Linked DNA regions of Homo sapiens: region 1 is linked to region 2. A link means that fine-mapping ties the variant in region 2 to the expression of a gene that starts in the linked region. Tissue or cell type: thyroid. Region 2 holds a variant in brackets; the other region holds the start of a gene. All regions are shown on one strand. Distances are between the middles of the regions.

Region 1 (8,099 bases), 370 kb before region 2:
GTCTGCACACAGATTTATTCCTCCTGGACTTTTCCCTTGAACTCTGAACTGGTTTAGCCAATGGCCCACTTGACATCTTCACTTACATGTCTCATAGTGTCTCATCCATAACACACCCAAAGTGGACTGCCGATTCCACCTCTGCTCCCATCCCCAACCAGCATGTTCTTCTGTAGTCTTCACCATCTCAGTAAACAACTCAGCAACTAAACAACTCATCCTTCTGTACTCAGGCTCAAAACCAAAAGTCATTCCTGACACTGCTCTCTCATACCCTACCAGCATTCTATCAGAAAATCCAGCTGGCTGTATTTTCCAAATGTATCCCAAATCCAAACCCTGCTCCCCTACCTCTTCTGCTATCACCCTGATCCAGCCACTTTATTTGAGATTTTTGTGCTAGCCCCCAACTCTCTCTCTGCACCTGCCTTGCCTCTTATAATCTATGAGAAGCACAGTAGCCAGAGCAATCCCTTTATAAGTCAGACCATTTTACTCCTCTGCTCCAAGCCTTCTCTCCAGTGGCCTCCTCTCATGCAGAGGAAAATTCCAGTCTTCTATGAACTGCCAGAGCCTATTTGATGTGACCTCTGTTAGCTCTCTGACCTTAACTCCTGCTGTTCCCTCTTGGCTCACTGGTTTATCCCTTTAGAGTTTCTCAAATAGGCTGAGCACATCCCATATCAGGGTCCTGGTACTTGCTGTTTTTTCTTCTGGAATGTTCTTCCCAGACAACTCACTGCCTTACTCCCTTCAGGGTCTGCTTATCAGAAAGACCTTGCTTGACCACTTGGATTCAGAGGGAAGCCATATCCCCAGCCTTCTCTATCCCTACATCCTACACCCTACCCCAGCACTCAAACCTCCTGCCATATTATGTATTTGTCTGTTGTCTTTCTTCCCCAACTAGAATGTTTGAAACTGCTATATCTCTGGTGCCTAGAAATGTTTCTAGTTCTGCTAGACAAATTGCACACAGCAGGCACACAATAGACATTCACTAGGATGAATGAATGAAATTATGAAGAACTGACTATGTGCTGGGCCCTAACCTGGAAGTCTTCAATGAAATAATTCACCCTCACAACTATTACCCTATGAGGTGGGGATTATTATTACTATTTTTCAGAGAGAAACCAGAATTAAAACCCAGTTCTATCTGCCTCCAAATATCCTCTTCCCATGACGTCACTCTGGGAAAAGCCAGGCTTTCCTCTGAGAGCCTTCCATCTACCATCAACGGTATGCTGGGTACTGAAATGTACACAAACCCAGCTAGAATAAAGGCTACTATGTGCAAAGGGCTTTCCAATTCTACCCACATTCTTTTTTTTCTGTAGTCATTTATTGATTTATTTATAATTTTAAAATTTCAATAGCCTTAGGGGTTAGCCTAAGTGAAGTAACTCATGCTCTTACTTTACGTTATCTCAACTGTATGGCTGTGAGGTAGGGAACCATGAACCAGTATTTAACACGATTTTTTTTCTGGGAAAGAAAGGCTTAGTGAGGTTTACCGGGTGTCTCTAGGTCAGCTAACTAGTCCTTTGGAAAGCCAAGTCTCCACTGCAGGTCTCTGACCCCAATTGCAGGGCAGGAGTGGGGAGGGTGGCGGGTGGCAGGCTCTACCCATTACCCTATCTGTGATAAACACTAGGTCAGGGATGCGCTATCACCACCTTACCCCCACCATACGCAAGCATCACCTAGAGAGATCCTCAGGATTCTACCCCACACAGAACTGCAAGAGGGCACAGTGGACAACCAAGTGGAAACTGAGTTATGAGCTATGCTCCCACCCTCCCAACAGTGAGGAAACTCCTCTGGACTTCAACCCAATGTGCCCTTGTATTGCCCTCCCTTGCCTCAGCCCACTCCCAACCTGAATTTAGAGTTGGGCTTGTGCATTTCTCTGTTTGCCCCAAGAAGGCTCCATGGCACCTGGGTCCAACCACCATCAGCCAAGGAGGACCTGAAGATGGCAGGTTCTGGAGGGCCTCAATCTCAGCCATGCCTTTTACTCCATCCTCTGTCCTTTGATACCCACCCAGCCCCTCCTGCCCCATCTGGGGCTGAGAAACAGGACATATCAATTGCAGTAAATTGCCACATCCACCTAAACAGGGTGTCCAGCATGTTTTTGTAACACCAACACCTGTTTGTTTAGTCATGCTGGGCCAGGTGTTTCAGCATAAAATACAAATTGAATTCCTCCCCTCAGAAGGGCTTGCAGTCAGATGATAACAGACAAGGCAAACAACTGAAACACCATTGATACATACTATATGGAGAGATGGACATCTATTCCAAGACCTCAGGAGGTGGAGATCAGGTGCCATTGGGCCCCATAGCAGCACTGTCAGCTGGAGTGACACAATGGCCAGGAACTGACCAGGACCCCGCTCCCTTGGTCATGTGTCAACACAGCAGGGAGAGTGTCCTGGGTGTCCTTGGATTGCAATCACGAGCATCCAAGTTACCCAGAGTCTGAGCCTCAGTTTCCCTATCTGTGAAGTTGGGAGATGATTAGTAAATATCCTCATAAAGATGTTCAAAAATTCAAATACACAACAATATCTGGAAAATAGTTTGGCTTCAATAAATGTTCGTTCTTTTCCCTTAATTTTTTAATTTTAATATTAAGATTAGTGTCCAAAGCTGTTATCCCTTCTTCAGATAATTATACACAGAAAGCAGGAATACAAAGAACGTCCAATCTCTGAACCACCTCAGCTGACCTGAGACCAATTTTCCAAATTGTAGTAAACACAAATGCATGCTCTCTACTCATGCCAACGCTGCATAAGTATCAGCTGGATCCCAGTCCACAAACACATGCAGTGCAGCTTCCCAGGGAAGTCACGGAGGGACAGGAGTGGAGCCTCTTACCCCAAGTCCTGCCCCCTGGAGCTACTCACCACCAGCAGAGACCCACCCATTTTCTTCAGACCAAAGACGGAGGGTGGGTACAGGATCCATCAAGTCCCTCTGAAGACCCTCCCCCACATACCACCCCAGGCCACCTATGGCCCACCCAGGGGGTCCCAATGACAGCAAAGTTAGCAACCTACCGGTGGAGCATCAGGGCTGCCTGAGATGTTCTCCATTCGCAGCAAATGATCTTATTTTCTGAAGTAGCAGCTTTCTATTGAAATTCTTCATCAGTCGCTGTCATGGGGAATTTCTCCCCCTTTTCTCTTTCTTTCTAACTGGTGAAATTGACAGTCTGCCTACATTATCCAGGCATTCATTTGCATGATCAAAAGCAGATTTGTTCCAAGATGCAATGTTCTGCCTTCCCTTCCAAGCACAGGCATCTCCAAGGAAGGCGAGAAAAATCAGAAACAGAGCGCCTCCGCTGTGCCCCTAAGCTTGGCCAGGAGTTGGCCTCGTCTGGGAGCAGGTGGAGTGGGGGCCCTGTGGGTAGCAGTAGGGGGAGGGCAGCCCATGTGGGAGTTGGAAAGCAGCACCTGGCAGCCCGAGGCGCTGGCACGAGCCCCAGCACAGGAATATCCAGTCTTTGGTGACAGATTATAGTAAGAGGAGTATGCAGGAGTTTCCAGTGTGTGTGTGATTTCCTGAAAGGAGGCACTGCTGCCTTAAATCCCCAGCACTCAGGGACGGGAGGGTGTTAGGGTCTGAACCCAGGGCATCGCGGGGACCTGGATTCAGAAAAATGGGTCACAATTCTTAGCTTTAGCCACACGATGTAGGAGAGTTGCTGAACTGGTCTGAGCTGCAGTTTCTTTAGCCTTCAAATGGACACAGTGAGAGCCACCCTGTCTGTCTCTTGCAGTGTTATAAGAAGCGAAAGAGGTATCTCCCAACACCCAGAGAGCCCTGTAGGTCTCATGGCTCTAGGATGCCCTTGCACACTGTAAACCCTCCACCCTGGAGCTATAGCCCCACATTACCCCTCACAGCTGACGCTTACACGTCACGTTGTCTAATTCTCCCCAGGGGCCCTGTGAGCTGGGATTATGGTTCAGAGAAAGCTGAGGATCAGAAGGACTGACTTGTCCCCCCCAAAATATTAAAATATTGTATTTCATGACTGCATTGTTATAAGGATGAATGTAAACCAGGCTGGATTCATTATTACATTTTCATTATTATTATATTTTTTCTTCTGATTTTAAAAGAAATTAGAAAGAAAAGACTTTTGTGAGTTCCTAAAAGTGCAGTGAGCCCTTGGCCCTGAGCAAGCTGTGCTTGATGGAGAAGTAAGTCCTTGTCCCTTAACACCATAAGGAGCAGTGAAGTCAGGAGTCATTCAAGCATTAACCCATGCAGCATCTCTCCAACATAGATTATTCAGAGGCTTCTGTGCGCTGGACTCTCTCTAGGCTTTAGAGGGCACAGTTGTAACCTAAACAGATAAAGCTTCTGACTCGGAGAGTTCATGTTCTCATGAAAGGACACAGATGATGTAAGTAAATAAAGAATTTCAGATCTTAGAAATGCCCTGAAGAACACTGAAGTGGGGCCATTGCAGAGGAGGCGATGGAATGGGGCAATTACTTTAGGGGCAGTCAGAGAAGGCTTTTCGGAGGAGGTGACTTCTGGACTGAGGCCTGAGCAATGGGGAGCCAGCGATGGGGATTGAGGTACAGAGTGGGTGCAAAGGCCCTGGGGCAGGAGTGGTCCTGGCTGTTTGGGGGTCACAGGGAGGTCAGTGCTAGGAGATCCAGTGGCCAGTGGAGGGACTGGGAGGAGAGGAAGTCAGAGGGATGAAGAAGACCAGTTATGAGATCTTTCAGGCCATCAGAAAAGTGACTTTATTCTCCTTGCAGTGGGCAGTTACTGGAATGTTTCAAGCTAATAATAGAAGGTGATTATATTGATCCACTGTTTTAAAAAGGAACATTTCTGGCAGCTATATGGAAAATTGACTAAGGAGATGTGTGACCCAGGAAGTAGAGATCAGATTGGGCTCTATTGTGGAAATCCAGGGGTTGAGCTAGTAACTTAAATTAGGGTTGCAGACATGGTCACAGTAAAAAATGATCAGATTTGGGATATATCTCGCGTTGGCAGCTGACTATATGAGTTGGGAATTCAGTAGAGAGGTCAGGGCTGTAGATACAGCTTTGGAAGAAAACCAAGAAAATGCGGTATCACAATAGCCAAGAAAAGAAAGCATTTCCAAAAGGAAGCAAAAGTCAAATGTCACAGAGTCAAGAGAGATGAGGGCAGAGATTGGGCTCTTGTAGGTCATGGGAGACCTTGATGAGGGCCATTTCAGTGGAGTAACGGGAAGGAAAGGCTGATTGGAATAGGCTGGGGGAAGAGGGGAAGTGAGGACATGGTCACATTGCTTCCCAAACCCACCCTGTCTCCACTGAATGATGCTCTCCACTGGATGCAAACGGCCACCCAGGATTCACAGAGCACTTTGCTCATTCACCAGCTGACCCCACTGACTTCACCAAGCTCTGCTCCATGACAGGAATTGTGTCATGTCCATTTGGAATCCTCAGTTCCTACTAGGTTGGTCTTCAATTCATGTCCCTCTAATGAACAAAGGAGTGTTGTGTCTCCATCTACCTCAGAGCTCTAGAGAATTCTGGAGCATTTGTGTATTCATTCACTCATCCATTCATATAATCTTGCAAGAAGCAGGTGAACTCTGGTAGGCTTCCTACTTTTCTGGTGGGGATTCTGCTCTGTGTCTCCTTCTTCCCCAACCTGTGATGTTACAACCATTTTTCAAAAATTGGAGCATTATCAATGAGCAAAAATTGACTACAGGCTGTCTGTGTACAAACCATTCCTCCCCTAAGCCCCTGCCAAGAGCAACATCTCTGCTTCTGCCCCAGTGTGGTAGAGGAGATGTGCTGTGAACTAGGACAGCAGTAGGGGTGGACCGGAGGTGGGGGCAGGTGTCACTCAGGATGAAGATCGTAGGCACAGGCTACAGCAAAATGTAGGGGAAGAGGGGAATGATTTTAGGAGCAATCAGGAAATACCTGTGTTTTAATCAGGTAATTGAGGGCTGGTCTTAGTCACTAAGGATAGGGAAATAGCAGGGGAAGAAGGTTCTAGGGGTGAGGAAGAACACATATGGATGACGAAGATAAATTGTGCCTAGGTTGAGTTTGAGGGGCCTGAGAGATTTCCAGGTGATGTGAGGCATTTATATGAAGGTATGAGGTTCAAGCTGGAGAGAGATTTGGGAATCATTAGCTTAATAGGTCATTCTTCAAGCAAGGAGAGGAAATGGCCCCACCCCACAAGCATTCGTGGACAGAATGGGAGGAAAAGGGGACAGGGTGGCAGCTGGGAGCCTTGGCTTTCAAGAGTAGTCAGAGACAGCAGAACGAGGTTCCAGAAATTAGGCTGAGGCAGAGCTGACTGGGAGGAGGAGATGGAGAGGTGGGGGATGGGGCGTCTACTGGTGGACCTCTGCAAGGTTATCAGTGACCTTGATGGAGGTTGGGGTAGCCAGATGGCCATATGGTAAAGAGGCTATAGGACAGTTGGAGCCCACCATGTAGACATGCTCTTGGAGTGCACATCTAGCTGAGAGCACCTGGATGAAGCAGATGGAGGAGACCCTCCTGTTGGGGACTGCCAGGCAGGCACTTTAGCTCTAGGTGGGGGTGGGACTCATGGAGAGCTGCACACTGAAGGTCTGAAAGAGCCAGTGGGGGGGTTTGCCCAGCGAGGGGCTCCAGGGCTGTGGGCAGCAAAGACTGAGCCTCAGAGAGATGGAGGGCCCTCAGTCCAAGAGGAGGAAGGGCCATTCCCTGAGGAGAGGGCAGTGTGGCCTGCAGAGTGCGCTGGCCTTGGGGTTTGCAGCAGGAGGCAGGGCCAGGGGGAAGCAGCGCTGAGGGGCCAGTCGGCTCCTTACTGAGGCTCTGCAGTGCCTGGGGCCAATGCAAGGACACCCAGCCTGGCCTGCTCTGTGTTCCATGCTCTCTGGCAGGTCACATTTGCAAACCAGGATGGGGAAGCTCTTCTCCCAGGTCCCGCCTGAAGCAAAAAAGCAAAAGGTAGGGTGAGGCTCTCCCAGCCACCCAGCCCTCTGTTCTTTCTGGCTTCTCCCCTGCTCCTCTGCCCTCATCACTCCACTGACCCCGTGGACCTCGCTGCTCCCCCTCACCCAGCTGTCCGCATGTCTGAACCCTACCCTCTCTTGTCTGGACTCAACCATCCTCCACGCTGCCTAACCCAGCTCCCTAGGGCACAACTGGGACCCTCACTGCCCAGCACCCCCGTCCCCTTTCCGGCTTCCTGTTCTATGCACGAATCTTGTTCCTTATCACCCCAGGACAGTCCATATCACATAGATGTGCTGTATATTGTCAGCCTGTCTCACAGAACTAGAAGCCCCATGCAGGCAGAGAACAGCCCGATTGTTCGCTGATGTGTCCCAAATGCCTCGAGCTGCTCCTGGCATACTCAGGCACTCCGAGCATAGTTGTTGAAGGGACGGTAGGATGAACAGCAAGGGCCTGCAGCCATGTGTTCTCATCGTGTCTCTCAGACACCACTCGGCGTGAACTAAAGGGCATTTCTCACCTGCCTTGCTGATTTTCTTTTTAATCATTTACTAACTAGAGGGAAGAGAGAAGTCATATTTATTGTCTCCCATGTGTCAGCCTCTTTATAATCATTAATGCATTTCGTTCTAACATCAACCCCATTTTATTGACCTGAAATGAAGGCACAGACAGGCATATCCACTGAACACATTTGTTCATTGGAGGTGAATCTTCTGAGGCCACAGAATAGAGCTAGATTTGAACCTGAGTCTCTCAAATGCCAAATTTCACATTCAATCCACTGGGCCCCAAGACATTCAGGTTGATGCTGAGGCCCTGCTCAGTCCCTCGGTGTTTCCAAGGGCTCTTACTTTTCATTAGGATGTGTTAATGGCAGTCCTTTAAAAGCACACACCAAGGAGTGGCCAGTTCATGACAGCCCTTTGTGTAATTCCTGCCTGTAACAAATCTACTGTCTAAGGCAGACCCCGCCTGTAATTACAGCTTGTGGAAGTCAGCACATGCAGTCACACGGTGGCCCCCACTCCCGCCTGCTGACTCTCTAATTAAACTGGCAATGGCATCTGTGCTCGGGGCCTCGCCAATCATGAA
Region 2 (8,085 bases):
GCAGCATTATTCATAATAGATAAAAGGTGGGAGCAACCCAGTCTCCAGCGATGGATGAATAAACAAACATAGTACGTTCCAGACATATGATGGGATATTATTTAGCTATAAAAAGAAAATTTTGAAATAGGTTACAACATGGATGGACCTTGAAAATACTAATATTATGATTAATGAAAGAAGCCAGACATAGAAGGAAAAATATTATATGATTCCACTTATGTGAGGTACCTAGAGTAGTCAAATTCATAGAGACAGAGAGTGGCAGCGTGGCTGTCAGGGGCTGGGAGGAGGAGGAGGTAAGGGGAAGTTACTGTTTAATGGGGACAGAGTTTTTGCTTGGGATGACAAAAATCTGCTAGTTATGGTTATAGATAATGGTGATTGTTACACACACTGTGAATATATTTAATGCTACTGAATCGTACACACACAAGTGGTGAAAATGATAAATATTATGAATATGTTGTCACACACACAGATGTGATATCCAGATAAAATGCCTGATTCTGATGGGATCATCCAGGGTGGCTCCATGATCCTGAATGTGCGGAAAACCCCCTGGAGGCTTGCTAAGGCACAGATCTTACTCAGTAGGTTTAAAGCTGGCCCCGAAATCCTGCATTTCTAACAGACTCCTGGGTGATGCTGCTGCCAGGGCTGGTGGGGGGACTACACTCTGAGAGCCCCAGGGTAGAGGACCACAGCCAGACTCCCCTGAACCTCCATGGAGGTCTCCAACTAGCAAGGGCTGCTGTGCCCCTTAGGCTTGTAAAGATGTGCCCAGGCCCAGGGGGTGGCCTTCCATCACGCCGCTACTTTGATTTGGGAGCCTGGCACCGTGTATCCATCATGCAGTGACATTTACTGAGTGTCTACTGGGTGCCACAGAGGCCTGAGAAGCCAGGACTCAAGCTCGGCCATGGACGTGTGTGGAGAGTATGCTGCCTGCTTCACACAGCACCACATCATCCTGCTGGACTCTGACTGACTTACTTTTCTTTAATGACTTATTTAAGAAAAATAAATTGATTGATTGATTGATTGATTTGATTTGATTTGATATGGAGTCTCACTCTATCGCCCAGGCTGGAATGCAGTGGTGCGATCTCGGCTCACTGCAACCTCTACCTCCTGGGTTCAAGGGATTCTCCTGCCTTAGCCTCCCAAGCAGCTGGGATTACAGGTGTGCACCACTGTGCCTGGCTAATTTTTGTATTTTTAGTAGAAACACGGTTTCACCATGTTGGCCAGGCTGGTCTCGAACTCCTGACCTCAGGTGATGAACCCGCCTCAGCCTCCCAAAGTGTTGGGATTATAGGTGTGAGCCACCATGCCTGGCCAAATAATAAAAATAAACTTATTAGAAAGGAAACCTCTCATCTCTACCACACGTAGAAAGCAAGAATTACCTGGCAGAAGTAAAATGGTAGTTGTACAATGCAATGAAAACAAAACTACTGTATTCGGTTGCAGCTCTACCCTGCTGCCTGCCCAGGCAAACTCTCCTCTCCCTTAGAACAAGGCTGACAAGCGCTGACAAGGTGCAAAGTAAGACACCAGGCCAAACTGAAGCCCCAGCACTGCAGAGACAGGTGGGAAGGAGGGACGGCAGAAATGACCTCCGGGCTCTGTGATGCGACTTTCTCTAGTGCCCTGCCTCACCTAACATCACAAGCCCCACGCTTCAGAAATCTCAGACCCATTCCAATCTTTCATTGGCAAAAGGGGAAATGGAGGCCCAGACCCTGGAAAGGGCTCACTTGAGGTCCCAGAGTGAGTGCAGGGCCAGGTAGAGCTCAGATGGGAAACTGGCTCTTTCTCTAGATTATCATAGTAAGTCCTCCCCACACCAGCTGAGATGGAGCAGGCAGGTTACTCCATGTGGCGTCACTGTTTTGGGAAAGAAATATTCTGGTTTTCTCTGCCTTTTGTCAGTGGCAATAAAAGAACAACAGTGCTGGCCAGGTGCGGTGGCTCACGCCTGTAATCCCAACACTTTGCGAGGCCAAGGCGGGTGGGTCACCTGTGGTCAGGAGTTTGAGACCAGCCTGACCAACATGGAGAAACCCGGTCTCTACTAAAAATACAAAATCAGCTGGGCGTGATGGTGCATGCCTGAAATCCCAGCTACTCAGGAGGCTGAGGCAGGAGAATCACTTGAACCCAGGAGGCGGAGGTTGTGGTGAGCCGAGATCACGCCATTGCACTCCAGCCTGGGCAACAAGAGAGAAACTCCATGCCAAAAAAAAAAAAAGTATGACAGTGCTACTGATATGAACACAGGACAGAGTGTTTGGAAGTTCAGGGACACGCCCTCTCCAGCCTTCCAGACTAGTTTCCAAGTATATACAATCAGCGCTCAATCTGCATACAATCAGCGCTCAATCAATGCCTGCCGCCTGGTGGCCTGAGCTCCTTGGGAAGCACGGGGCCTCGGGTCAGCTTCCCTGGAAGCAGAGGCTGGGGCACGGATGCAGGTGTCCATGGTGGGTGCTGTCTGGAGAGGGATGAGAAGCAAGGCAGGAGAAGGAAGGGGAGGTCTCCATGGAGTCAAGCACTGCAGGCTGGGGGCGAGGCGAGTGAGGAGTCGGGCAAGTGGGATAAGGAGGCCCACTCATGCCCAGGGGCACGGCCCGAGAGCGGACATCTCCTTGAAGCTGGAGCCCTGGGTGCCTCACCTCACCCTGCACTCGGGCATGATCCACAGGAACTCTGGAGCCTGTGCTATGGCAGAGTTTGTCCTGTCTTGAGGCACGATGGCTGGAAGTCCTCCCTATCCACAGGCCACACCCGTCCCGAGAGTGTTGGGAAGAGGTACCCGCGCTCCCTTCCCATCCTCCTTCCTCCTTCCACGGCCAATGAATGATGCATCGCCTTCTGAGAAGCCTCCCTTGGACCCTGGAAATATCAGTCTCTGGCCTTCCACACATGGGTGGCACCACTGGGGCCTCACCGCAGGCCTCATTCCAATCCCCAGCTGCTGTTGGTTTCCCTGGCCCCTTTGGCATCCAAGCAGCAGACACAAGCATGCTAGGTAGTACAGGCTCAAGATATGTCCATTGAATAAGTGAATGACAACTGCTAAAGCTAACACACATTCATTCATTCAACTCATCACAACTGAGCCCCTATCACATCCCCGGTGCCGTGTGGGGTGGACAGGTGGGGTGGACAGGTTAGCGCC[G/C]GGACAGGCGGTGCTTAGAAATGGCTCGTGCAGGACTCAGATGGCTCACCCTGAGCAGAAGCGCATGTTCTATGGTTGCCCTATGCAGGACCCTGTGCTGATAACCTGATAGGCAGCTTCTCACTGAGTTTCTATAATGGTTCTATGAGAAAGGTGATCTTATAGACCTATTTTACAGGTGAGGAAACTGAGGCTTACAGAGGTGAAGTGAGTTTCCCAGGACCAAAACAGTTTGAATATCCTGGGCCTGACTCCAGACCATGTCCTTTAACTACAAGGGGATCTGACTGTGCCCTTTGACAGTGGGTGACCTGGTAAGTGCAAAGTGAGGACAATGAGATACCTACACCCTCCTGGTGGTGGGGGTGGTAAGGGCGAAGCAGTGGTACCTGGAAAGCTGGGCCCAGGACCTGGCCAGAGTTGGTGCTAGGCGCCGGGTGGACAGTATGATGGTATTATTTTGCATTTGGGCACTGGGCATGGATGTCTGGGATGGGAAGATGCCTTAGGAGGGCAGGGGGCGGAAATCAGGGGAGGGTCGCACTCTTTCTGTCCCTTGAGAATGTCCCCTGCGTATCACAAAACGGTTTCCCAAGTTGGGGGCAAGTAGAGAAGGCAGAGTCAGCATTCGACATGGCTTGTCTCTGAATTGGACATGGGGACTGGGGAAGAAGGAATCCCTGTTCCTGGGTGTCTGGGACAGAGACCCGAGGAGAGGGTCACAGGGGTCAGTAGGTCCAGCCTGGGATGGTGGTGCAGTCTCTTCACTTGCAGGGCACGGGGCTGATTTGTAAACTCAACTCAACTCAATTTAACTCAACTCAACTCAACTCAACTAAAAGAGTGAGCCCTGGTGACTGCTCCTGTGTCCCTGTTCCTGCCAGGGCTGGGACGAGCTGGAATTGTGATGCCCACTTGACTGAGGAGGACTATGAAGCTCAGGGCAGGATGGGAGCTCGGGACCTCACATTCTCACCTAAGATTCTTCCAACCCCCTCAACAGTATGGGGGAAATCGCCCCCATGATTAATTATCTCCCACCAGGTCCCTCCCACAACACGTGGGAATTGTGGGAGCTACAATTCAAGATGAGATTTGGGTGAAAGCCAAACCATATCATGACCCAAGTCCAGTTCCATTCATGAAATGGTCCTGCCTGCAGGGGGGCCTTTAAGCAGAGCAATGGCGCAGCCTGGAGTTCTCAGGATGGCTTTGTTGTCAGATATTCCATGCCTGTATCCCGATTCTTTATTCAAAGCGTGTGGTTTCCGTATTATCTGTGCATTTTTTAGAACCCCAAAGCTCTAAAGCCCTGCTCCTTTCTGTTGATTTCCAGAGGGTGAAGCCCCATTCCTTCCAAGTGGCTGCCCTGGGATCAGCCACCAGAGGCTAAACTTCAGAAAAAGACTGCAGAGAAGGGCTGCAGGTAGGGGAAGACATCTGGTAAATGGGAAACAACTAAGTGGAAATATATTCAGCCTTAATTAGTACTGAAAAAAAAAAAAAACCCACCTAAGTTCAGTATTACTTGCCCATTAAACCAACAAAAATAAATACAATTGTTAAAACTAATGTTTGCAGGGTTGTAGAGAACCTGGTGAAGTAACATTTCTCCCATGTAACACGAAGGAGGCTGAGACTCAGTGAGATGAAGAGCTTCTTCAAAGTCACTCCTGATGGGACCTACAAACTCTGCGACAAAACCTAGGAACGCTGATGCCAGGCCCCAGTTCCTAAGTCTACATTATAGCCTGTGTTCTTTGAAGACACATGGCTTATATCCAGAAGCTGATGTTTTTCCCTTACGCCTTTTTAACCCTCCTGGGCGACACCAGCCTAAGAGTTTTAGAAACCGCCCTCCCCAAGAAGAAAGATCGATACTGTCTTGGTGATACTCTCTAATAACAGTTTTTAATACGGTATTTCCAGAGGTTGGATTTGATGTTCTCTTTTGCAAAAGTCACCTAACTTTTCTGAGTTTCAGTTTCCTTGTCTGTAAAATGAGGACAAAGGCCCCCAAGTTTCTCCTTTACCTGCTGTTGTGTAAGGTCCCTTCCTGTTTGGTTTATATAAACAGGCTGTGTAGTACCCTGTTTGTCCCCAAAAGGCCTTTGTAAACAGAATCCCATGGTGACACTGAACATCACAGACTCCAGGCTCTGAAGAGGAAGTTTGGACTTAACGTGGTCCCAGCAACTGCTGCTACAGGGGGAATCAGATCCAGAGAGGAGATGGGATGTGTGTGAAGCCACCTCTGCCATCAATGTGTCATTTTCCCAACCCTGCTGGTTCTCAAGGGAGGGCAACTTTGTGCATGCATGTGCACCCACACACACGCACACCCCACCTGGGACACCTGACAATGTCTGGAGATCTTCTGGCTATCGCAACTGGGGATGGGGCACTCCTAGCATTTAGTAGGTAGAGACCAGTGATGCTGCTAAACATCCTGCAATGCACGGGGCAGCCCTTGTGACTAAGGCTGATCCTGCCCCACAAGTCCATAGTGCTGAGGCTGAGAGCAGACCCTAATCCTTACCATGCCTGGCTCGCCACCTCCTTCCCTAGACCCTTGGATCTTTGAAAGGGAAAAGACCCTACCTGCCCGGTTCTCTGTTACCTCCCCAGAGCCCACCCCAGGACCTGCACACAGTGGTGCTCAACACAGATTAGCAAACCAGGACTCAGCCAGGTCTTTGGAAGCATAGCCCAGGGCTTTTGACCTTTCTAAGTCTCACACATGTTTTCTGTTCATTTCAAATAGACCTTCCCCAGAATCTACCTGGATAACCTCTCTGAATCCTTCATGATGAACCTGGCCATCACTCCTGTAGGAAGCCTTCTGCGATAACCCCAGGCTCCAAGGGGAGTTGGACATGAAGACCATCGCTCCTGTGCCCACTTCCTGCACAGCACCTATGGTCCTGGCTTGAGTTTGTCTGTTTTCCCTTCTCTCCCCATCACTCCTGCAACCCAAGAAAGGAAAGACTCTATCTTTTCCATCTCAATGTAGTGATGCTTGGCATATAGTAGGTGCTCAATAAATAAGACATGAACACATATATCTTGCTCTTCTTCGATCTATTTTGCATTTAACATGGGAATGACCTTTCAAATGACAAGATCAGATCATGAAACCCCCTGACAAAAATTCTACAGTGATTTCCTGTTGCACTTACAAGAAATCCCAGAGTCCTCCCCTGGGTCTTGCTGACTCTCAGGCCTCGTCTCACTGCACCTCCCCTGATTTACAGCCCCCCAGCCATGCAGAGCTCCTCTACTCCCCATTACATCCAGCAGAGGCCACCCTCGGGCTCTTGCACCCGCTGTCCCAGACACCTGCAGTGCATGGTCCTGCTCTTCTCATGGCTGCTGCCTTCTCTGCCTGTGGGTCTCAACTTGAGTCCTGCTGTCTCAGAGACCTCCCTGGTGACCCCATTTACAGAAGCCCCCTCTAAGTTTCTATGACAAACCTCATTGGATCTGTCTTCAAAGCACTTCTGTGTGAGCCTACCTTGTTTATTTCTTATCTTCCCCTCCCAGCCAGAATAAAATTCCATGAGAATAAGGATCTCTCTCTCTTTTTGCATTTCAATAGCTGTAGTGGGTGAAATAGTGGCTCCCAAAAAGATACGTTCAAGTGCTAGTCACCGGAATCTGTGAGCATGACATTTGGAAAAAGCGCCTCTGTGGGTGAAATTGTTGAGGATCTCTGCATGAGATCATCCTGGATTAGGGTGGGCCCTAAACCTGATGACAGGTGTCCTCATAAGAAAAGGAGAGGGACATGTGAGACATAAAGGGATACAGGGAGGAAGGCCCTGTGGAAGTGGAGGCAGAGGCTGGACTGCTGCAGCTCTGAGCCCAGGAACGCCCAGCACTGCCGGCAGCTGGCAGGAGCCAGGAGCGGGCCTGGGGCGGCTTCCCCCTCAGAGCCTCCAGGAGGAGCCAAGTCTGCCCATAATTTGTTTTCAGACTTCTGGCCTCCAGAGCTGCAAGAGGATGCACTTTTGGTGTTTTGAGCCATGAATTGTGCAGAAATTTGTTATGGCAGCCACAGGAAACTAAAGCCGTGCTTCCTGCTCTGACTTAGATATAATAGATCCTCAATAAATAGTGTGGGACAATAATCTGAATCCTACTAACTGCCTGGCAGGGCCCCAGGTGTACACGGGGACTGAGCATTTAACTCTGAGAGCACCTCACTCTCATTACCAGACCCCTACCCTCAGCCCAGACTCCCACTTTCAGCCCAGGCCTCCCACTCTTATCCAGATCCCCACTCTCAGCCCAGACCCCACTCTCAGTCCACACCCCAACTCTCAGCCCAGACCCCGCTCTCAGGCAGCATCTCACCAGCCACCATCGGTAGGTGTCGTCCTCCAAGAGCGCGTTCTGGGCGGTCAGCAGCGGCTGCATGGTCTGGTTGAACCTCTCATCGAACCAGGCCGAGAGCTTGCGCTGCCCGATGCAGTGGGTGCAGGTGCAAGGCCTGTGCTTGATCAGTCTCTTCAGGTTCTCGGAGAGCTCCAGGACCATCTGCTTGGGGAACCAGGTGGTGGCCACCATGGTGTGGGAGTAGTTCAGGAAGAAGGAGGTGAGGAAGATGAAGAGCACGAGGAAGGTGAGCACTTTCAGGGTCCTCTTCCGCAGGGTCACCATCTTCGCAGTCCTGATGGTGGCCTCCCACGATGGGTAGCAGGAACTCCCTCCTAAGAGAGGAGAAAAATGGAAGAAAAATCCCAGAGGTGGAGGCTCAATCAAAAGGGATGGCAGGAATTCCAAGGGAGGACACAAGGGCCGCTAAGCTCGACTTCACTCCTGCTGGGGGATGACCCCCAACTGTGTCCCAGACACGGCTGTGTGGTAGACCAACGCCATTCGTGGCATGTTGGCTT

Which allele goes with the higher level. Alleles are on the strand shown, and positions count from the first base shown. SD is a standard deviation of normalised expression in the study named.
For the expression in thyroid of the gene that starts at base 3,121 in region 1, G is the low allele of the variant in region 2 and C is the other (moderate effect, 0.43 SD a copy in GTEx).

Evidence for each region. PIP is the estimated chance that this variant, and not a neighbour inherited with it, causes the effect.
Region 1: it holds the start of SLA, and the variant in region 2 is fine-mapped to the expression of SLA in thyroid (GTEx, PIP 0.96).

Annotation. Positions count from the first base shown.
Region 1 is chr8:133,099,482-133,107,580 of GRCh38, forward strand. It overlaps SLA (Src like adaptor), which reads right to left and starts at 3,121. Exons shown (of 9, transcript NM_001045556.3): 1 at 3,072-3,121. All of the region lies in intron 43 of TG (thyroglobulin), which reads left to right.
Region 2 is chr8:133,468,176-133,476,260 of GRCh38, forward strand. It overlaps ST3GAL1 (ST3 beta-galactoside alpha-2,3-sialyltransferase 1), which reads right to left. Exons shown (of 10, transcript NM_173344.3): 5 at 7,544-7,899. The coding sequence starts at 7,849. Among named protein-coding and RNA genes, the nearest start is that of ST3GAL1-DT, 98 kb to the right of the region's middle. The variant G/C (reference allele first, on the strand shown) is at 3,188.